Linked DNA regions of Homo sapiens: region 2 is linked to region 1. The links come from fine-mapping of genetic effects on gene expression. A gene starts in region 1. The other region holds a variant in brackets. All regions are shown on one strand. Distances are between the middles of the regions.

Region 1 (11,854 bases):
CCGAGTAGCTGGGACTACAGGCGCCCCCCACCATGCCCGGCTAATTATTTTTGTATTTTTAGTAGAGATGGGGTTTCACCGTGTTAGCCAGGATGGTCTCGATCTCCTGACCTTGTGATCTGCCTGCCTCGGCCTCCCAAAGTGCTGGGATTACAGGAGTGAGTCACCGCACCGGGCTAGTTTCAGTAATTTAAAAATACTGATTATGTGTTGAAAATATAATTTCGGGGCTGGGCGTGGTGGTTCACACCTGTAATCCCAGCAGTGTGGGAGGTCGAAGTGGGAGGATCACTTGAGTCCAGGAATTCGAGACCAGCCTGGGCAACAAAGTGAGACTCTGTCTCTACAAAAAATTAAAAATTAGCTGGGCATGGTGGTGCACACCTGTGGTCCCAGCTACTTAGAAGGTTGAGGTGGGAGGACCAGTTGAGCCCAGGAGGTCCAGGCTGCAGTGAGCTGTGATCATGCCACTGCATTCCAGCCTAGGCAACAGAACAAGACGCTGTCTAAAAATAATAATAATAATTATATATATATTTATATATATATAACTTTTGGGTATACAAGACTAGGTTAAATAAAATGTATTACTAAAATTAATTTCATCTGTTTCTCTTTATATTTTTTATATTGGATACAAACAAATTAACAATTACAGACTATCGCCAACTTATAATGCTTAAACTTTATGATCAATAGTAATAAATTACATGAGATATTCACACTTTATTATAAAATAGGGTTTGTGTAAGATGATTTTTCCCAACTGTAGGTTAACATCAGTGTTCTGAGCACATTTAAGGTAGGCTTGGCTAAGCTATGATATTCAGTAGGGTATGTGTATTTCATGCATTTTTTACTTACAATATTTTCAACTTATGGTGGATTTATTGGGACATAAACCCATCCTAAGTCAAGGAGCATCTGTATACATGAAGCTAACATTCTATTCCTATCAGACAGTGCTGCTCTAAAGTATGTCACTGCAAAACTTAAGCCTTCAAGTAAAATGATCAGATTTGCATTCTAGAAAGATTATATGCCCTGGTGAGACTGGGTTAAGATTGAAAGCAGATAGAAAGCTATTCCAGTTGCTGGGGCAAACAATGATAAGGACCTGTTTTAAAACATGTGCAGTAAAGGTTATGAGGAAATAACAGCTTTAGCCTGGGCATGGTGACTCATGCCTGTAATCCCAACACTTTGGGAGGCCGAGGTGGGAGGATCGCTTGAGGCCAGGAGTTTGAGGCCAGCCTAGGCAACATGACGAAACTCCATCTCTACAAAAAATACACACATTAGCCAGGCATGGTGGCATTGCGCCTGTAGTCTCAGCTAGTCAGAAGTCTAAGGCAGGAGGATCATCTGAGCCTGGGGAGATTGAGGCTGCAGTGAGCTGTGATCATGCCTGGGTGACACAGTGAGACCTTGTCTCAAATTAAAAAAAAAGGAAACAACAACTTCAATTTTCAATGTACAGTAAAAAGAAAAAAAAAACCACTCAGGATAGCACTTTTTGAGGGAGGATAAAATTCTTGGGGTTTGCAGCAGATTTCCAGTTACATGGAAATCTATTTGCTTTGGGAGTGGGGCCAAGACAAATATGCCCAAGTGTAGGATCATTACGCTACTCTGAATTAAAAAGAAGAAATCACATTCAAATCCCTGGAGTTAGAAGAGTTGTGAGTTCCAATGTGGTATTATCACTCCAAGTTATACTGGACTCCTGAGTTCTCCAAAGGAACCCTAGTGGTACCTTGTAAGTCTACAGGAAGACAAATTGGTATAGTTGTAGTGGAGGGCTTGGTGAAGCTTGCTATGTGTCCTCAATTAGGGAGCATGATCTGAGTTCTTAATGTGGCTCTGGTTATAAGCCCTTGCTCAAGGCAATGAGAGAAGAACTCCATCCTCTGATCTGAAGTTCAAGATGTCAAAGAACCTTGATATAAATCTGCCAGTGTCTACCTTGGGCAGTTGGGAACTTGGGAAAAAACATAAATTCCATTTGGATGCAAAGAGAATATTGGAAAGGGTTGTCAAATAGAAAAGAATCAAATTAATAGATGCATTGGAAATAAACTATTGGCCAGGCATGGTGGCTCACACCTGTAATCCCAGCACTTTGGGAGGCTGAGGCAGGCGGATCACTTGAGGTCAGGAGTTAGAGACCAGCCTGGCCAACATGGTGAAACTCCCATCTCAACTAAAAAAAAAAATTAGCTGGGTGTGGTGGTGCACACCTGTAGTCCCAGCTACTTGGAGGCTGAGGCATGATAATCTCTTGAAACCGGGAGATGGAGGTTGCAGTGAGCCGAGATGGTGCCACTGCACTCCAATCTGGGTGATAATGAGAGACTCCGTCTCAAAAACAAAACAAAACAAAACAAAGAAAAGAAATGACTTCACATTTAGGATTAAGTTTTTTAAAACAATAACATAAACTACATAAACTGCTTTTCATAAAGAATATAAAGTGCCCTGAAGACAGAAAATATTCACGCCTCTAACAAACCTTTATCAAGGCCTTACCAAGGACCAGGTACAGTGCTAGGTACTGGGATTTTATGTATAAATGTGTATATGTATATCCACATATATACTGTATGAATAAAATTGAATCCTTGTCCCTGAAGAACTCACCACCTATCTACTTTTCAGATAAGGGACAAATCCCTCAGATGTGGACATTATACCCAAAAGACTAGCTAACACATTCAAAGTCATTTAGCACTGGCTAAGGGCTGGACTGACACAAAAATCTGATACTCCTGACTTCAGATTCAGTAGAACAGTGCTCAGGCTAGTTTTATCCTAAACAAAAAATGTGGCAAAATTAAATTCCATTGCAACTCGAAACTTCAGGTCAAGTGTGGAATCTCACAATCAAACAAACTACTACAATAGAGGGCCTAAGACATAGAATCAGCACAAAACTCAAGTTAAACAAATATTCTTTTGACATCCAAGATCCTTATAAACAGGAGAAAATCAATTTTCCTAATAGAAATCCATCACACTCTTGGATAGTGGCTGCCTTTGCAGTGTACTGTCATCGACCTAGCTCCCAGATGGTTGCAGACCTATTGCATCAGACAAATCAAATCACAAGTACTTGACAGCATCCGCCCAACCAGCGACCACTCCAGTTAATACAGGCAGAGATTTATGGGCAGATGGTTCTATGGTTTTATTCGGCTTCATGATAGATGCCCGATATGACTCCAAGATCCGGCAGTTCCAGGTTCTAGCCCAACTCTGCCAATGTCTTTAAAGGAAAACGTCCACAAATCACAATTAAACAGCTTCAGTCATTACAATCTTTTGCTCGCCTCCTCACTCCCCTCGCGTTTGATCTACCACGGAAAAGACTTTTCTAATTCTTAAAGGTATGCCCATAGGTCGGGGGATGGCCTTCCGAAAAGCTTCAGGGTCATTTATTTTGGCCAAGAGCGGCCTCCAACGCCCCGAAATGCTTCCGATACCGAAGGAATGAATCTACTGTGTTGCAGAAGTGACGCAGTCTCAGGAGAAGCCTTTGATCCTATCAAAACAAAGGAAAACCACTCTGGCCTTGCTGAAGATGAGAAAAAGACTGGGGGGGACCAAAGATTCGTGTTAGGAAAGCCGCGTAGACCCCACAACCTCCCGCCCCGGCATGTTCTGGCAACCCCTGGGGCAGGAAGGCTTGACAGCTCCCGATGCGCGTGCGTACGCACACTGGCAGCGAACGGCACTGAGCACGCGTGGAAGGGACCTCGCTCCGCCCGGGTGGAGGAGAAAGTGGGATGACCCCGGCGACCAGGCTGTGTTTTCGGGGATGGGGAGAACCTCGGAGCCACCGCACCCTGGGAGGGGGTCTGACGAAGGGTGGAAGCTGTGGCCTCAGGAGCGGTGGCTGGATTTGAGAGAGAAAATTGGGTTTAGCATCAAGGAGGTAACCCGCCCGTCCCGGTACTTACATCGTCGCCACTCGCTGTCTGCCTTCACCAGCTGGTCCACTAGTCCCGGGTCCTTGAAGCGCTTCTCCTGCGTCTCTCGGATGAGGGCTGGGTCCCCTCCTTTATCCACCCGAAACAAATCCAGATCCAGCACCATCTTCTTTCCTCCCGGGCCAACGCTCAGGGAAGCAAGGATCGCGCCGCAGCACTCAGCCTGTGACCGCCGCACTGCGCCGGCGCGCTGACCCGCCCTTCCTGCGCAGGCGCAGCTGGAGCCCGCAGGCGACCCTCCCCGCGACCGGAAGCGGCTGGTTGGAGGCGGGGCCGCGGAGGGAGGGGAGGGGAGAGTGGGTGGGCGTGGGACTATACCTCTGGTTCCTGCTCCCCAGCTCTGCTACAGTCTGCAGGAACTGTGATCGCCACATAAAAGTGTGAATGCCTCAGTTTCCTACTCCTGTCTCAGGCTAGGCAGAGGCCTGTCCCCTCATCCCTAGCTTAGAGGCCGGGGCCTTCACCAGGTGCCCGTTTTCCTCTCACTAGGTTGGGTTCTTCCACTGGGCTCTTTCCCTGAACCTCGGCCGTCTTCTCCATCTTGATACAAGAGGATGGCATATTTAGTCCCAGGGCTACCTCAGCTTAAGATTCCTGCTCTCGTGCCTTAGAAATGGTATACCTTTATTAATCTGATTATTGGATAAACCAAATTGTCACTTTACCAACTCTTAAGAGCACAGCTTTGGGAAAGTGCGGTTGTCTTTTAGAGAGAGACGAGAGAAAACTTTTCCAAAGGGACATTAAGCAGATTTGAACGCCGTATAAGGTGTTGAGGTCATGTCTTGGGTCAATTTGAAAGCGTCTTGAAGAACGGTTTGTATCATACTTTGATTTTATAATGTTCAGACCTTTAAATGAAATATTCTAGTTGCCGAGTGAAGCCAAAGTTATCAAAGAATCTCCCTGATAACAAGAGATTATTTGAAGGATTTGGGAACAGGTGATCTCCTCCCCCACCCCCACCCCCAATCCTTCCACTCTGCAGAAACTTTAAAGCCTCACTTCCAATGCCTTCTCGAAGCTAGATGTGCTAAGACCTTCTTGATCTTATACCGCCGTCATGGACTCCTGAGATGAGGGTGTGACATAGCTAACTATCATATTATTTATTTATAATATGAAATATATTTGGGCTTTGTCCCTGGTTCCTGACACAGCCCCTAAAACCCTTGAATTTCCTGGGTTATACGTAATGGGTCTCTTTGATAACACCTGAGTTTATAATAAGGAGGTGATTTAGGATGGGGGCCCTAGATAACCTTAGGATGGGGCCAGTCACCAGAGAGACCAAGTGATTGGAGGATTGGAACTTTCATCCCCACCCTTCAACCTCCAGGAAAGGGGGAGGGGAGGAGCTGGACATCAAACTCTATAAACGCTCGAACAACAAGAGTTGATGAGCTTCAGGGTTGTTGAACATGTGGAGATGCCAGGAGGGTGTCTTGCCCAGAAAGGTTATGGAAGCTCTGCACCCCTGACACCTTGCCCTATCCATCTCTTCATCTGGCTGTTCATTTGTACCCTTTGTACTATCCTTTATAATAAACTGGTAAATGTTTCCTTGAGGTCTGTGAGCCTTCTCAGCAAATTAATCAGACCAAAGGAGGGGGTAGTGGGAGCCCCAGTTTATAGCTGCTAAGAAGTATAGGTGAAATCTACTACTTGCAATTGGCATCTGAAGAGGAGCAGTCTAGTGGGATCAAGCCCTTACCCCATGGAATCTGACACTACCTCCAGGTAGCTAGTGTCAGAATCAGAATCGAATTGAATTATAGAATGCTTAGCCAATGTCCACTGGAGAATCGCTTGGTGTCTGAGGAACTTACCCCCCAGGGCCCCTCACCACTGCATCTGGTCACAGAAATGTTGTGTGTTGAGTGTGGGTTTTTGTTTTTGTTTTTTGTTTTTTGTTTTTTTTTGCCTCTTACACTATCCCTGCTCCCCAAAAAGCCTCTGCCAAGCCAACCCTGAAGTGTAGGTCAGGTCTAACAACAATGATAGAGCTAAGTAGAGACCCTGAGGGAGGCAGAGGAAAGGGGCTTGTCTGGGTGTGCTCTCCTTGGTTCAACCTGCCTATGGTATTAGATTTAAAACCAGTGGAAAGGAAGGGTGAGGAGCTGCAGTCTTGGAGGAAAACATCTAAGAAGACTCTCCTCAAAGTGTTGGGTTCCCTAAAACCTTCTGAGGGCAAGGTCTGTGATGGGGGCGCTCCCTGCTTCCATGTCATTGAAGGCACCGCCAAAGTGTATTGCCAATTAAGTTTCTAAAACAGTGGCAGGTGTTTCTGAGGCTGAAGTGATCCCAGGCCTAGGGGAGGAGGGCCACTGGGTCAACCCTTTAGGAAGGTCATCAATGTCATTCAACAAGTGATCTTGAAATTCTGATCTCTCCAAATTTATTCATGCATTTTTACAATTGATCTTATCATTAGATTACAAACATCTCCCTTTAAAATGTTCATATGGGCGGGCGCGGTGGCTAATGCCTGTAATCCTAACACTTTGGGAGGCCAAGGTGGGTGGATCACCTGAGGTCAGGAGTTCGAGACCAGCCTGGCCAACATGACAAAATCCCGTCTCTACTAAAAATACAAAAATTAGTTGGGTGTGGTGGCACATGCCTGTAATCCCAGCTACCTGGGAGGCTAAGGTACAAAAATTGCCTGAACCCAGGAGGCGAAGGTTGCAGTGAGCTTAAATCACGCCACTGCACTCCAGCCTGGGTAACAGAGTGAGACTCTGTATCAAAAAAAAAAAAAAAAAAGTTGATGTTACCTGATGAGTATAATAAATTAACATAATAGCATACTTCATCAGCTTAGAATCGTGGGATTTTTAGAGTTGGAGGGGAGCTTCAGCTATCTGTTAACTTAATAATTCCTGATTTTTTCATCACCTTGTCCCTCATGTTTTGAAATATTTTTGTCTAATGAACATGATTTTTAAAAAATAATAATTTGCCTTTTTTATTAATCAGATCTATATGGCTGCCACCTAGAAATTCTGATCAGCAGGAAATAGGCAGTGTTACTGCACCAAGTAACTCCTGCCAGAAGCTAACGCAAAAACAAATCAACATAAAAACTTTCGTTATGGAGTGATGGTGTGAAGCCCTGCCACCTTTGAATATGTGATTTCTGTTAACCCTTACTACCAAGAATGCTCTTGGGCACTGCCTCTGAGGACTGAAGTGCTCAAGAAGCCCTGACTGGAAAACAGCCAGCCAGGCTAACCCTTTTATTTTCTATATAAGGAAACAGCCCCAGAGAAGATAAGTGATGGAATCAAAACCAGGACACAGGTAAATACCTAAGATAGCCTAATGTTTGGGCTTTGCCCTTTTAGTAGCAATCCTTAGCAGAAAACAGGTCAGTGAGGACCCTGACTATGCTATGGGGCCTGATCTTATAGGGCAGAGACCATTGCGTATTTGCATTTTTCTCCCCACGGGACCTAGCACCCTGCCTTACCCATGGTAAGTGCTTGTTACATCCTCCCTGAGTGAGTGGGTTGCGAGGAAGTAGGCTGAGAGGATGGGAGCTTGTTGCAGGTCAGCGAGCAGAGTCCTGGGTGAAGATACTGCCTTGGGGATCCTGGGCAGCTAGTGGGCAGCCTAGGGGAAAAGAGCAACTGCAGAGACGGAGCAAAAAAAGCGGGTGTGAGGCACCCAACAAAAGCTGCCTACCTCAGTTTTCCCAGTTTGGAGCTGGCTAACTCGGAAGGGTTCTCTGAGGCCTCACTGTGGCAGCCCTTTGTGTTCCTCTGTCTTGGATTTGGAGTAGGGTTTCTCAATGTTCACCGAACAAGTCCGGTCCTGTCACTCCCTTGCTAGAAGTCTTCTGTGGATACCTGTTACCCTCAGGGGAATCCAAACATGGCTGGCAACGCTATATATGATCTGTCCCTACCAGCTTCTCTAACATGTTCCCTCTTTATCTCGTGTGTGTGTGTGTGTGTGTGTATGTGAGACTGAGTCTCACTCTGTTGCCCAGGCTGGAAAACAGTGGTACAACCATGGCTCACTGCAGCCTCGACATTTCCAGCTTCAGGGGATCCTCCCACCTCAGCCTCCCGAGTAGCTGAGACTACAGATGTGTGCCACCATGCCCCAGGCAATGTTTGTATTTGTTTTTGTTTTGGTAGATACAGGGTTCTGCCATGTTGCCCAAGCTGGTCTCGAACTCTTGGGGTCAAGCAATCCACCCACTTTGGCCTCTTAAAGTGCAGGGTTTACAGGCATGAGCCACCTCACCTGGCCCTCTTTATCTCTTAACATTTCCCCCTCGTATTCCCCATTCCAACCTTCTTGTGGCTCCCTTCCTTCCCTCTGAGCCTTTGGTTGCACAAGTTCCTTCTACCTGGAACTCCCTTTCCCTTCTCTGTTCCTCTTACCTGGCTAATTCCTCCTTTCTCCTGGAAGCCTTCTCTTACATCCTCTTTACCCCTCCCTGCAAATTGGTTAGACACCCTTCCCGTTTCCCACAGTACAGTAGTATTGATGATACTGTTTCAGGAGGAACTGACAACCCTGCCTCCAGTTCTGGCTTACCCACTCCCTTCTATCAGAGAGACACAGTAACAAAGGAGGTCCACGTTGCTATCCTTCAGCAACTAAGCAGGAATCATTTAAAAATAGCGTGGGTCGGGGAAAGCTGCCAGGACTTGGAGGGACTTTGATCCAGCCTCTCCATCTGATAGAATTGGGGTGCGAAATCAATTCTCCCACCACACTGTATCTTACGGTAGTCTCCAGTGGATGCCTGAAACCACGGAGAGTACGGATCCCTACATATACTGTGCTTTTTCGATCTGGTAACTCAGATGGCTGCTAAGTGAGTAATGGGTGGATAGTGCAGACAGTATGGATACTCTGGACAAAGGGATGATTCATGTCCCAGGTGGGAAGGAGTGAGATGGCACAAGATGTCATTATGCTACTCATAATGGCATACAATTTAAAACTTATAAATTGTTTATTTTTGGAATTTTCATTTAATATTTTTTGACTTAAGTTGACTTTAGGTAACTGAAACTGTGGAAAGTGAAAGTACCGTTAAGGCTGAACTACTCTATAGGGAATTGCATTTTATGTGGGATTGTTAACTTTGGCACTGAGACAAAATTAGTTTATATTTCAAATTCTCCTTGAATAGCTCTTAAAAACCCTAAATCAGTTTCTCTATCTCTTAATACTCATTGTTGCTCTATGCTTCCCAGTTAATTAATTGTCTTCCTTAAGATTTAGACCAAGTCGTAAGTATATTCTTGCCTGGTCACCTGATAATGTATTTTACTTCTTTGTCAGTGATTGGGAAATTCTTAAAATCATTTCCATATCATTACACACCCCTCTCACTGCCCCGCAGTTTCAAGCTTGATTGTGTCTGTTGCTTGTTTGTTGCATTGCACAGTACACGGTTGTATTCATAAAGATTCATAGCGGTACTCCCATGGGACTGTTTTTGCCCTGTTATTTCCCACAGTGGGGTGACGTGGAAGGCTGAGTGGGATCTGTGAGGTGAAAAGGAAGCAGAGGGGCAGAGAGGAGAGCATATTCCAATGCTGGAGGCATGAAGGTGCTTATGACTCAGAGACCATCAAAAGCTCAGTGTGGTTAGAGTAGAAACAATGTTGGGAAGGTGGGCCGGTGGGCCGTTAGGGACCCTGTAGGCCACGTAACTGAATCTATTGGAGACACAGTTTCTTCCTCTATTGTAATGGGTGTAATGGGGATAGTAGCTGCCTCCAGGGCTGTTCTGAAAATGAAAAAAGGCAATGCTGTGAAAGCATTAAGTCCAGGCTTGACACAGATGCCAAACGAATGCGTTTTCTTTTCTACTTACCTTCTTAGAGTTTGGACTGTATGTTATAAGCAGGGGTGATGTTCAAAATATTTAACCACCAGTACAACCCAGGTACCACCCAGTCAAAGTAGATGTGGGTCATAAACAACCAGCCTTGGAGTGTAGGTGAGCTGCTGCCAATTGCTCCTGCCTGACAGCAATAAGGAGCCATCAGAGATGGCACATTTGAGTGCCATCAGATGTGTTAGAAAAACGGCTCTGAGTGTTCCAGCTCTTGTAGAATTTTTTTATTTTTTTTACAGACAGGGTCTGCCTCTGTCACCTAGGCTGGAGGGCAGTGGTGCAATCCACCATCATAGCTCACTGCAACCTCAACCTCCTGGCCTCAGGCGATCCTCCAGCCTGGCCCTCCCAAAGTGCTGGGATTACAGGCATGAGCCGCCACACCCTCTTTTAGAATTTGGTTAGCAGGTTTTCTGCCTTTTACCAGAAAACTTTTCATGAAAAAAAGAAAAAGAGCTCTGGCTACAGAGCAGGGGGGTGATACTGGTGTGGGAAGCACTGGCGCGGAGAGGCCTGTTAGAAGACTAGAAATTACCTAAGGACCCTGACGAAGAACATCTGGCACTTAGTGCCATTCAGTCTGAAAAGTGTGACATTCCCAACTCATCTATTAATAGCTGAGAGAATTATTTTTGGGGATCAAGTGCCCTCAACTAGAATAAAGTCCTGAAGCAGAAAAATCCTGCCAGGCACGCTGGCTCATGCCTGCAATCCCAGCACTTTGAAGGCCAAGGTGGGCAGATCTCTAGAACCCAGGAGTTTGAGACCAGCAACATGGTGAAACCCTGTCTCTCCAAAAAATACAAAAATTAGCCAGGTGTGGTGGCGCATGCCTGTAGCTACTCAGGAGGCTGAGGTGGGAGGATCACTCAAGCCCAGGAGGTTGGAGCTGCAGTGAGCTGAGATTGTGCCATTGCACTCCAACCTAGGCAACATAGTGAGCCTCAGAAAAAAAAAAAAAAAAAGAAAGAAAGCAAAAATCTAGCAACCTCAGGAAATGGTAGGCCCTTGATATCATCTAGGATTTTCTCCACATCTAGTCTGTAATAATCTACTTCATACCCAAAGAAGCTAATTTTGCTTCTATTTGTGGATTTATTGTTATGTGGCTGGCCTCATGTTTCCTGAAAGAAACCTGAGCAGAAGGGAAGGGAAGTAGCATGCGAAGTGGTTTATGAGTTATTTCTTTTGAGCTCATTCAATCTTGGTGTGTTGGGTATCATTAGATGCATTTTATTATTGTGGAAACTGAGGCTTTGGTTATTGACTGATTCCTCAACAAGTAGTGGGAGGCTTCTAGCCTATGTCCATCTTGTTCCAAAGTCTGTGCTCTTTTCTCTGCCTCTCTGCGAATGTGGAATCCTTCTCCTTTTCAGTTTAAGCTTCCAGGACACTTACATTTCCCACTCACCCCTCCAGCCACCCAACCCATGTTTAAGAAAAACAACTTGTAAGGTATGTTTTTATTTTACAAAAAAAAAAAGTGACATGCAATAACCCATCTTCTAACAAACTATTAACGCTTGGATTACAGGGTAAAAAGGAAATCCAACCAGCCCTGATGAAAAAAAATTCGATTTCACAAAGCTGAAAAAATCTATTACAAAGTTTCTGTTGTATAAATATAGTCAGTCTTATCTTTAATGTAGTCAGACAAAAAAAAGTTTTGTTGGCACTAAAACAAAAACAAAAGCAAAAACCCTACTGCTTGAATACACCACAATCTTCATTTGTATTCCCAGCCAAATACAGATGATGTCTATAGCATGACAGTTACTGCATGTTCCAGGACTCAAGGTAACCAAATGAGATTTAAACATTTTATCATACTCCCTCTACCAACAACAGCTTGGACAGACCACTTTAGCCCTGGGTCAAGGACTAAAGCCTTTGTTCATAGAAAATTGAACATGTAGGCCAGGCACGGTGGCTTACACCTGTAATCCCAGCACTTTGGGAGGCCGAGGTGGGTGGATCACTTGAGTCCAGGAGTTTG
Region 2 (11,854 bases), 49 kb after region 1:
AGACATTTCATATTCAATAATAACAACATGTTTTGATTGATTTCTAGTGTCAGGCATCGCTCTAAATTCTTTACAAGTATCATCTCATCAATCCTTACCTCAACTATAAGAGTACTATTTTTATCATCATTTTTAGAATGAAGAAACTGAAGCCCAGAAGTGCTTAGGAAACTTACCCTAGGTCATCCAGTTGTGATCTGCATATAATGTTTTTCATTTTTAATGTTTACATTTCTCTCTCATTCTTGTTTCACTGTCACAGTCTTTGGGCGTCTGCTTGATCTTTTCCACTAATATATGACATTCTTTCTATTACACCCACGTCACTCCTGTTCCCTTAGCTTATCCTAGTTTCTGATCTCAGGCCAGTACCTTAGCCCTGGGACATCAACCCAGGACCCATGGGAGGATCCCTGAAGGCTCAGAATCCTGCCATGGAGACTCCGTTCAGCTGGTCTGTTTTGTCCCCAATTATTTATTTTGTCTATTTTGAGCCAGACACTATGTTAGATGCTGGAGACACAGTGATGAACAAGACAAGTATGATCCTTTCCCTCTTGGGGCTTGCATTCTCTTTCTAGTTGAGGAGACAGAAGCTTAACTAATCACACAATCACATAGCAATGACTGTGATAAGTGCCATTGGAGAAATGCAGGATGATAAAGAGAGTGTAACAGGAGTCTGTGGGGTCGGGGATGGTTTCTTTGAGGAAGGGATTTTTAGGTAGAGACCTGAGGGTTAAGTAGGAGACATAGAAGAGGGGACAGAGAGTCACATGTTCAAATGCCCTGAGGAGGGGAAGGAGTGTGATGGTCAGTGTGGCTGGAACACAGCAAGTGAAGACAGAAGGAACTTGGGAGAGGCTGGGGAAACAAGCAGAGGGCAGGGGGCAGGGCAGCAGGGCCCTGCAGGCTGTGGGAAGGTAGTGGACTTTATCCCAAGAGCAATTGGTAGCCATTGAATCTAGGGTTTTGAGCGGGAAAGTACTGTGACTGGATTTAAGGAGATGAGGCTGGGTGCAGTGGCTCACATCCGTAATCCCAGTACTTTGGGAGGTTGAGGCGGAAGGATCATTTGAGCCCAGGAGTTTGAGTCCAACCTGGGCAACATAAGTGAAACCGTGTCTCTAGAAAAATAAGAAGTTAGCCAGGTGTGGTGGCATGAGCCTGCAGTCCCAGCTACGCGGGAGGTTGAGGTGGGAAGATGGCTTCAGCCCGGGGAGGTTGAGGCTGCAGTGAGCTGTGATTGCGCCATTGCACTCCAGCCTGGGTGACAGAGTGAGACCTTGTTTCTTAAAAAAAAGAAAAAAGAAAGATGAATCTGGCTGCTGAGTGGACAGGCCTGGAGGAGGCTGGGAATGGAAGCAGGAGATGAGCTTGGAGTCTCTTGAGGCAGAGCAGGCAGGATTTGGGTAGCTGCACAGCTGAATAGGAAAGCCAAATACTTGCGCTCTAGGTATTAGCTCAATTATTGCCTTTCTGAGGGATGATGGGGAAACCACAAAAGCTCTCCAGATGGCCATTTCCTCTCCATTGACAGAGAAATATCCTCTCCCTCCCTCCCCGGGATGTCGTGGGATGCCTTAAGATGCAGGCCCTGAAATAGTCCGTGCGGTGGAAACACAAGTTGTTATTAACCCACCCACATCCTGCCTCTCTGAGAGATAATGATTTCTGGACTCTCGGTGCAGTCCCCAGAGAGAGAAGAAATCCTTCCTTTACATGGGTAGGAATTGACTGAGCCATGTCTGCACCTTGTCCAGGGCCTAATGACATTCTCAGTTAGGACTCAAATGGGAGTTGGTTGTCTTAACCCACACATTCCCGCTCCTTCCAGCTTTAAAGCTCTCTAGCTTTATCTCTGCCTCCAGTATTGTCATGCTAATGAATCTGACACACCAAGTTGAACTCTAAAATAACATAACATTAAAATTGGACTACAGATTAAATAGCCACTGCTTGGCTTAGACAAGATTTAAGTATAGGAATGGGAAACATTGCTCCCGGTTTTTAGAAATCCAAGTGTAATACAATTCTTGAGTCCTTCTTATCCATTTGATTGTTTGGGTATAAGTGAAACTTTCACTTGCTTTCCTCCTGTATTCACTGTCCATATTTAATAAGGAACAATATGGCTGCCTTTCACATCCTCATATCCCCCCACTTTCGCTCCCTAGGACCCAGTGTTGCCTTGCCCATAATAAATGTTATTTGAATGTGGCATTATGGAGCAGTGGAAGCTTGGGTTCGAATTTCAATCTCGCCGGCTGTAAACCGGATAACAAAGAGCAGGTCATAACCTTGCTGAGCTTCCAGTTCCTCGTCTCTGTAATAGAAATAGTAATGCCTATTTCACAAGGTTCTTGTGAGAATTAGAGAAAATAATATATGTAAAGCATCCAGAATAGTGCCTGGCCTACAAAAGACATATCTGAAATAGATATCCAGTTCTCCAAGCACCCTGGACTGAGCTTTCCAAGAAAATTTGCTAGTCATTGGGGTCTCACAGCATTTGGAAGATTTCAGCCAGCACTGGGCAAAGGCTAGGCAGAATCAGTTTCAGAAGTTAGCAGCCAAGGTGGCCCATGCCTGTAATCCCAGCACTTTGGGAGGCTGAGGCAGGTGGATCACCTGAGGTCAGGAGTTTGAGACCAGCCTGGCCAACATGGTGAAACCCCATCTCTACTAAAAAAATACAAAAAAATTAGCTGGGTGCGGTGGCTCACGCTGTAATCCCAGCACTTTGGGAGGCCGAGGCAGGTGGATCACGAGGTCAGGAGATCGAGACCATCCTGGCTAACACGGTGAAACCCCATCTCTACTAAAAATACAAAAAATTAGCTGGGCGTGGTGGCGGGTGCCTGCAGTCCCAGCTACTCGGGAGGCTGAGGCAGGAGAATGGCGTCAACCCGGGAGGCAGAGCTTGCAGTGAGCGGAGAGGGCACCACTGCATTCCAGCCTGGGTGACAGAGCGAGACTCCATCTCAAAAAAAAGAAAAAAAAAAAATTAGCCGGGCATTGTGGCACACACACCTGTAACCCAGCTACTCAGGAGGCTGAGGGAGGAGAAACACTTGAACCTGGGAGCTGGGGCTTGTGGCGAGCCAAGATGGCACCACTGCACTCCAGCCTGGGCGACAGAGTGAGACTCTGTCTCAAAAAAAAAAAAAAGAAGAAGAAGAAGAAGTTAGCACCCAAGCCGGGAAGATACCCAAGCTTTGCATATTGTGTTCCAGTCAAGCTGAGAAAGTATATTGGCTGATCTGAAATTCCGTGGTGGAAATCCGGTTGGTTTTTTTGGTTTTTGTTTTTGTTTTTCTTTTTTTTTTTTTTTTAAGACGGAGTTTCACTCTTGTTGCCCAGGCTGGAGTGCAATGGTGCGATCTCAGCTCACTGCAACTTCCGCTTCCCAGTTCAAGCGATTCTCCTGCCTCAGCCTCCCGAGTCGCTGAGATCACAGGTATGCACCACCAGGCCTGGCTAATTTTTTGTATTTTTAGTAGAGACGGGGTTTCACCATGGCCAGGTTGGTCTTGAACTCCTGACCTCAAGTGATCCACCCGCCTCGGCCTCCCAGAGTGCTGGGATTACAGGCGTGAGCCACCGCGCCCTGCCGGTTTTTGTTTTTCAATGAGACAGGGTCTTGCTCTGTTATCCAGGGGTACAGTGGTGCGGTCATAGCTCAGTCTAACCTTGAACTCCTAGGCTCAAGTTATCCTCTTGCCTCAGCCTCTCGAGTAGCTGGGACTACGGACATGCACCACCACACCTGGCAAATTTTTTAACTTTTTGTAGAGACAGGGGTCTCGCTATGTTTCCCAGGCTGGTCTCAAACTCTTGGCCTCAGGCAATCCTCCCACATTAGCCTCTCAAAGTGCTGGGATTACAGGGGTGAGTCACTGTGCCCAGCTCCAATTGGGTTTTGTTTTAAATAGACTGGGCCATTTAACCCTTGCCCCCCTTGTCCACTCTCTTATTTCCTCATGTTTTTTACCTCCCACAAATGCCTGTCCATCACTGGTAAGTTTAGGCCAGTAAGAGTGGGCCAGGCAGAGTCACATCCACTGGTCTTGCGGGCACAGCTGCAGGCCTCACCCTGGCAGCCTGGCTTCCTCTTCCCTCCATCCTCCCTGCCCAGCCTGAGGGGCAGCGGAGGAGGCTGTCCAGTGTGCCCTGTAGCCCCTTACCCAGTGGGCTGGGGGTGGGGTGGGGGTGTGTGCAGACTCACGAAGTACAGTTCCCGGTGGACTCAGCAGCACTGTCATCCAGCTCCATGTTGGCTGAGAGGCTGGCAAAGCCATGGGGCAGCTCATCCCACTCATCAAACCGAATGCCTGTGCCGAGGGAGTAGCGGCCCTCAGCGCATGGCTTACATGACTGGTCCTTCATATCCAGAAACTCCCCGGCGTTGCAGGAGAAGGCTGGAAAACAGGGCAGAGACAAGGTGGGGCAGTGAGGTCACTGCAGCCCCAGAAGTGAATGGGCTGCGAGCAGCTGAAGGGAGGAGCGCTGGGTTGGGGTCTAGGAGTTTGGCCCACTAAGATTTAGGGCCATGGCATTTACTGTGTGATTTGATTTTATTTTTCTTAAAAAAATTTTTTTTTCAGCAGTGATATTCCTTGCTATGTGTCATTCTATTTGTATGGAACGGCCAAAAGAGG[T/C]GAAGCCATAGAGACAGAAAGTAGATTTGTGGTTGCCAGGGGCTGTGGGGAGGGGCCTGGGGAGAGATTGCTAATAATATGAGGTTTCTTTTTAGGATGATTAAAATGTGAAATGAGAGTGATGATGGTTGCTGTGAATATTCTAAAAACCACTGAATTTTATCCTTAAAGGAATGAATTTCATGGCATATAAATTATATACCAATAAAGCTGTTATAAAAAAAATAGATCTAGGGCCACGGATGCTCTGCCTTGCTGTGGGACTTTGGGCTTGTTCCTGGCACTCGTTTCCTTTGGAGAGGTGCCCTGACCATTCTGAGAGCTCTCTGGTGAAGAAGATGCCAAGGTCTCTTGTGCTGACCCCTCTGAATGACACATGGCCCTTCAGCCTTGAATTTCTCCCTTGAGCCTCTGGCCTCTGCCTTTCTGGTTGTACTGCCACCATGCTAGGTGGAATTCTCATGACCTGTTAACTCAATCATTGCAATATCCTCCTAACTAGTTCCCTATTCTTATTTTTGCTCATTCTGTGGTCAGAGGTACCTTTCTAAAACAGATGTGATCAGGCACAGTGGCTCATACCTGTAAACCCAACACTTTGAGAGACCAAGGCAGGAGGATCACTTGAGCCCAGGAGTTTGAGGCCAACCTGGGCAACACAGTGAGACCCTGTCACTACCAAAAAAAAAAATGTTTAAATTAGCTGGGAGTGGTCGCGTGTGCCTGTAATCCTAGCTACTCAAAAGGCTGAGGTGGGAAAATTACTTGAGCCCAGGAGGTCGAGGCTACAGAGCTATGATTGCACCTCTGTACTTCAGCCTAGGAAACAGAGTGAGACCTTGTCTTTAAAAAAATAAAAAGTAAAACACGTATGTACTATTATTCTCCTTATTTTAAAAATAAACAGGCACTCCCTTTTGGTTCTAGAATTATGCTCTTGGCCTGGCATTCAAAGTTTTCCACGATTTCCCTGCAGCCTAACTTCCCAGCTTGACCTCCCACTACAAATCTTTTTTCACCTCAACTCCATCCATCACCTTCTCTGTGTTGCCTCTACCCTGGACCACAAGCTCTTCCTCAAATGTGTCACTCTTCATCCACGTCTAAACTTTTGCTCAAGTGGCCCTCCCAGCTATGCCTGATCCCTAAATATTCGTAACTCTCATTCTTTCTCATATCATATATGTCTGCCACCCACTAGGCTCTGCGCTCCTCTGGGGATGGCTGGCTCAGTGACTGGCACAGACTGGGAGCTTCATGAATGTTTCTGAAACAATGAGTGAATGAATGAATGTCTGCACTTTCCACCACCCTAAGCTTCTGAAAGCAGAGAGTGTGCCTTATTTGTCTTTGCAGTTCACACTGCATGTGCACATCATGGTGCTAACACATAGTGGGACTCACTGAAGTCAGCAGAGTTCAATGAAGATGGCTCATTTGTTTCCACTAGTCACACCTCAGTTCTGCTCAGGTCTCAGCAATATCCAGTCATTAATTTAACAAGTATTTATTTGCTCACTTACTCAACCAGGCACTGTACTAAGCTGATTTTAGAATTTAAATATCTTCAAACTCCTTTCCAACTCTTCAGATAATTCCTTAAATCTAGTGCCTGGTTTTTCTTGTTATTCCCTTTGCATTCCTAAAAGAATAATGCAGGGGAAACAGCTGCCAATTGTAGAAAAGTTGTGACTGCAGAGTCACAGAGGCGGGTGCTGGGGCTGCGGCAAGCCACTGCCTTTCCTATTGCACAATCAGACCCACAGTCAAGAAGATTCTTGTCTCCTGAAGTGATGCCTGGAGCATTTTAAAGGACGTCTCTGCAGAAACTTAGCCTCTCTGACTTCCTTTTTAAGAATGAAAGCAAATCTCAATCTTGCCTAATGACTGATTGTGGCTGGTGAGTGAGTGTAGATTGGAGAGACATACAAGGCAAAAATGAAAATGTATGCAAACAGAAAAGAATATCTGAGTGCACACAGCTGGCATTGCTTATGCTGTATCCACTGATGGGATTTAAATTCCTTTAAAAAATGAAAGCAAATTCAGATATCCAGTTTGCATTCATGAAATACTTCTGCACCAAATCTCATAAGGGTCTGGGATGTGGGGACTAATTGGGGAAAAGATCTGATTCCTTAATGCAGCTGCTCTGCCAGGAAGGGCCCAGATTGGATGGCAGGAGACTTGGGGGAGAGACCAAAGCTGAGTGACAGGGAGGCCCTGAGCAGGATAGCTGCTTACAGCACTCGGTGCCCTTGATGGGGTCAGGCAGGCTGGTGCACAGGCCCGGGGTATGCGGCACGGCGACCCTCCACCTGGAACCCGTGCTGTCACACGCCGTGTACTCATAGTGGTACTCAGACTGCAGGGGAGAGAACAGTGGGCGAAATGTGCATTAGCAGTGATCAAACATTAACAGCTTCCCACCCACTTCCCAGCACCATGGCTACTGATGCTCATCCTCTCAGAAATGGGCCCTGGGACCCCGGGCAGGGAGCTGATGATTATGAACCGAGTACAAGAACTACAATGATTTGGATCATTCCCTTCCACCCAGCCATGGTCTAGTCCCTAGAAATCATTTTTGTGTGTGACTCTCTTTGTTGTTATGTTTAAGTAGTGTCCTTATGGAGCAGAGGAACGTGGGAAAGGTAACTAAGGAACAGGCTAGAAATAGGTGGAATTTTTCTTATTCCAAAGTGTAGAATTTATGAACGAGGACATTCTAAATGGAAGGATGTTCTAAATGGAAGCCTTAGTCCACAAAAAATTTACAAAGGCTCCTCACAGAAGTGGTATGTATTTCTATTTCCCTGTGTTTCTTTTTTTTTTTTTTTTTTTTTTTTGAGACGGAGTCTCGCTCTGTCGCCCAGGCTGGAGTGCAGTGGGATGATCTTGGCTCACCGTAACCTCCGCCTCCTGGGTTCAAGCGATTCTCCTGCCTCAGCCTCCCGAGTAGCTGGGACTACAGGCGAGTGCCACCACGCCAGGCTAATTTTTGTATTTTTAGTAGAGACGGGGTTTCACCATGTTAGCCATGCTGGTCTCAAACTCCTGACTTTGTGATCCACCTGCCTTGGCCTCCCAAAATGCTGGGATTACAGGCATGAGCCACCACGCCTGGCCCTATTTCCCTGTGTTTCTTATGCTCCTTTCCACTCAGAAAGACTATGAATTCCCAATTGCATTTTATGAAAATATATTTGGCCGAGGCAGGTGATGTGCTCTCACTTGAGCCTGTTCATCCCTAATTTGTCTGTGCAATGGGAAACTCATAGTTTAATTGTTTTACCTGAGCTAAAAATAAATGGAATAACAACAAAACAACCAAATCAAGCATTAAGTAAAACAACAACAACAAACAGTTCCACTCAGAACAAAGAAAACACAATTGATGTGCCAAATGCCCTTAAGCGTTTCTTCCTCCTTTAAATCTGGTAATAAACAACAGACCATGGAATTAGTGATGATTTTGGCTCTGACAAGTATTTTACAATCTACACTTACCTAAAACTATATTCAAGCCCAGAGGTATTTTGTATTACTGTATGCATAAGAAAAATAGAATTAATGTCCCCCTTTAACCCACGTGATAGCCTGATTGCATAACATGTATAACGTCAAGGAGCTAAGACAAAAAATACAAGTTTTGAAGTTTGCTAATCTAATAATGCGTCAGGATCAAAAGGAATAAGCTTTATTTTTGGGGATAGGTAAACACACTGCATTTCATCTATTCCAAGATGCACGCTTTTTCCACATCTAACATCTATGAAATCAAGACGTGTCTTAAAATTGACACAGTAAGGAAGAATTGTGTTATGTTTTAAGGGATAGAGAGCTTTTTCTTTCTTGATGACACATTAAAAAAATGGTGTCTTAGAAGCAGTGGCATTTCAGACTTGTTGCAATATGGTAAAGATGTAGTTTCTTTTCTTTTTTTTTTTTTTAGACAGTCTCTTGCTCTGTCACCCAGGCTGGAGTGCGGTGGCGTGATGATGGCTCACTGTAATCTTGACTTCCTGGGCTCAAGTGATCCTCCCACCTCAGCTTCCCAAGTAGCTGAGACTACAGGAGCCACTACATGCAACACCATGCCCAGCCAATAGATTAACTCTTGACCAGAATCTTTGGCTTTGGATGTAGATGTCAATGTCATCTAGGAAAGAAAGAACATCAGGATGGGAATTCTTTGTGCCCTCTCTGGGTCTATTTTTCCCAATAATTCTTGTCTTTTCCTCATCTCAGACTCTGAGGACAAATAGGGCAACTATACATATATGATGTCAATCCACTTCTTAAAATGATACTCTCAAAAGGGTTTTGCTGCAAGAATGAGGGGTAAAATCCACTGTGTATAAATTAAATGGAGAATTGAGTGAGCAAGGCAGAAAGGACTGTGTGGTGCTTCTGAACATATTCATGCTGGTCTTTTGTGTAGTGTGTTCACAGTTCCCAAATACCATCTCGTTTCATCTTCACGACTCCCTATAAGGCAAGTAGACCAGGGGTTGTTTCCTTCATTGTACAGATGAGAAAATGACTCTCAGTGGTGTGATAGCTTGTCCAAAGTCATGCAGCCGATAAGTCACTGAGCTAGAAACCAGGCCTTCCCACCAGGAATCCTCCTCCACCCTTATAGACTCTGACCAAACACAGACTCACACAGGGCCAAATTTAACAGCCAAATCTAAAAATTAAACATGACAGTGTTGGTTGTGTGCCAGCAGCCAGGCTCACTTCTGAGGCCCAAGAATTGGTGTTAAAATATCTAATCTGTTCGAAGATCATCTCAGTTCATTCTGACTGCATTGGCCTCTTAGAGGCACATGGGCCAAATCCATTACTTTTCATCGTCTTTCATTTGATGTCCCCTGGGTCTCACTCAGGTGGGAGGTTTGCTGAGGAAATGGTGGTTCCAAGCCTAAGAAAATTTCCCTTTCAATATATGCTCATTTACTTCATGCCACTTGGGGATATTAATTCAAGGTGGCTGGTTCTAATACACCTGTTTCAAATCTGAACTACACTTTGAGATCACACCATTCAAGACATAAGCTTAGGGCGGGGCACGGTGGCTCACGCTGTAATCCCAGCACTTTGGGAGGCCAAGGTGGGTGGATCACCTGAGGTCAGGAGTTTGAGACCAGCCTGACCAACATGGTGAAACTCTGTCTCTACTAAAAATACAAAAATTAGGTGTGGTGGCACGCGCCTGTAATCCCAGCTACTCAGGAGGCTGAGGCAAGAGAATCGCTTGAACCTGGGAGTGGGGGCAGAGGTTGCTGTGAGCCAAGATCACGCCACTTTACTCCAGCCTGGGCAAAAAAAGCAAGACTCCGTCTAAAAAAAAAAAAAAAAAAAGACATAAGCTTAGAGAGAGTTAAACCAGGGATAGAACTGGCAGGACTCCTCAATTATATTCAGCGTTCTGCAAACACATCAATTCCCTGACAGTTTACTCAGTGATCTGTTACTCAGTTTACTCAGTGATCTGTCTGAAAGTATATAATTTGCATAAAGTGCAGGTCTACAAAGGAGCACATAAACACGTTCAGTATATACATCCAGCACGTAACTCCTTCCCCCTCCCTGTGCACAATTCTATGACGCACACCCAAATTACACTGCTAAATGGGACACAGCAGGCAGTGGGTGCTGCCTGTTCATCAGAAAAACAAAGGAAGGGTTTAGAAATGAGAGGGTGGGGAACTGTAGTTAGCGCATCCTTCCGTAGCGTCACCCAGCCATGTAATACTCCTGGGCACATGAGAAGGAAGAGGAAAAAAACCCTGAAACTGGAATATGCTTTGCCTGTATTGACTGATCTGTCGGTAACACTGATCTTTCAGTTCTAGAAGAATTCACTCAGACTCACAATATTTTTAGTCCTTACTGTCTAGGTATTGAATGGACTGCTGAAATGACCAAAAAAAAAAAAAAAAAGAAAACTGTCAAGTCAGGATGGTATCTGGATGGAAATCTGTCCTTCCTTCTACCTTCCCACCACTTGCTTTCAAAATAGTATCTGTTACTTTTAAAAATGATTATCAAAGTAACAGTTTAGAGGCCAGACGCAGTGGCTCACACCTGTAATTCTGGCACTTTGGGAGGTCAAGGTGGGCGAATTACTTGAGGTCTGGAGTTTGAGACCAGCCTGGCCATCATGGTGAAACCCCGTCTCTACTAAACATACAAAAATTAATCGGTCGTGGTGGCATGTGCCTGTAGTTCCAGCCACTCAGCAGGCCAAGGTGGGAGGATGACCTGAGCCTGGGAGGTTGAGGCTGCAGTGAGCCGTGATTGTACCACTACATTCCAGCCCAGATGACAGAGTGAGACCCTGTCTCAAATAAAAAAAGGAACTGTTTATAGACTAGAGATTGGAGGTAATCTATGGGTTAGATGCTAGAGCTGTACTTCATTACCATCCACTGTGGAAGATGAATAAGGTTTAAGCTGGTTAGCTGATGACAGAGATGTGGTCCACAATTCAGGTGGAGGAGAGTCCTAGGGACTGGGTTAGCCTCTTTCATGTGCCCTAAGTAAATAGGCAAATTAGAAGTGATCCCACCGCCCCTTCCCACATGGTGCTTGACTTCCCTAAGCCATAGCTGCCTCATTGAAAAATGGGGATATACAAACTCCTGCATCATAGAGGGGCTGGGCTGCTGTATAGTTATGCAGGCTATTCATAAGGTTACCTAGCTCAGGGCATGAGTGGAGGGTGAAATCTAGCTCAAGTCTTGCATGCTAGGTGGTATGCCCTATTCAGGTGTTGCATCTGCCCAGAGAGGGAGTGCCTTTTCCCCATGTGCGATAGGGCCCTCTGTGAGCATGATTAAGATGATGTAGGTCAAGCACATCACACAGTAGGTTTTCCAATCTCCAAAACAATTCAATGGTAAATTATTTTACCATTTTACAGATGGGAAAATTGAGTCATTGAGAGGCAAAGTCACTTGCTCAAAGCCACACAGCCAGGAACTGCCAAACCAGGATTGGACCCAGGCTATCTGAGTCCAGAATCTGTTTTCAAGGCTGCCGGTGTTTGAGAGCAGCCTGTGTAGGCTCCTGTCACACTTACATACTGTGTCTGGGGCACAGCACTGGCTTTCAAGCTGCTAAAAACTGCAAGGAAAGCCAAGTAGATAAAAAATTTTGCAAACAAGGCCCAAGGGGAAGGGACC

What was found. PIP is the estimated chance that this variant, and not a neighbour inherited with it, causes the effect.
Region 2: its variant is fine-mapped to the expression of SARS1 in whole blood (INTERVAL, PIP above 0.99).

Annotation. Positions count from the first base shown.
Region 1 is chr1:109,206,234-109,218,087 of GRCh38, reverse strand. It overlaps SARS1 (seryl-tRNA synthetase 1), which reads right to left and starts at 4,170. Exons shown (of 11, transcript NM_006513.4): 1 at 3,960-4,170. The coding sequence starts at 4,095. ELAPOR1 (endosome-lysosome associated apoptosis and autophagy regulator 1) reads right to left here. Exons shown (of 22, transcript NM_020775.5): 22 at 11,307-11,854. RefSeq lists an enhancer at 3,747-4,106 and a silencer at 4,157-4,376.
Region 2 is chr1:109,157,066-109,168,919 of GRCh38, reverse strand. ELAPOR1 (endosome-lysosome associated apoptosis and autophagy regulator 1) reads right to left here. Exons shown (of 22, transcript NM_020775.5): 2 at 6,906-7,026; 3 at 4,229-4,421. Among named protein-coding and RNA genes, the nearest start is that of ELAPOR1, 49 kb to the right of the region's middle. The variant T/C (reference allele first, on the strand shown) is at 4,662.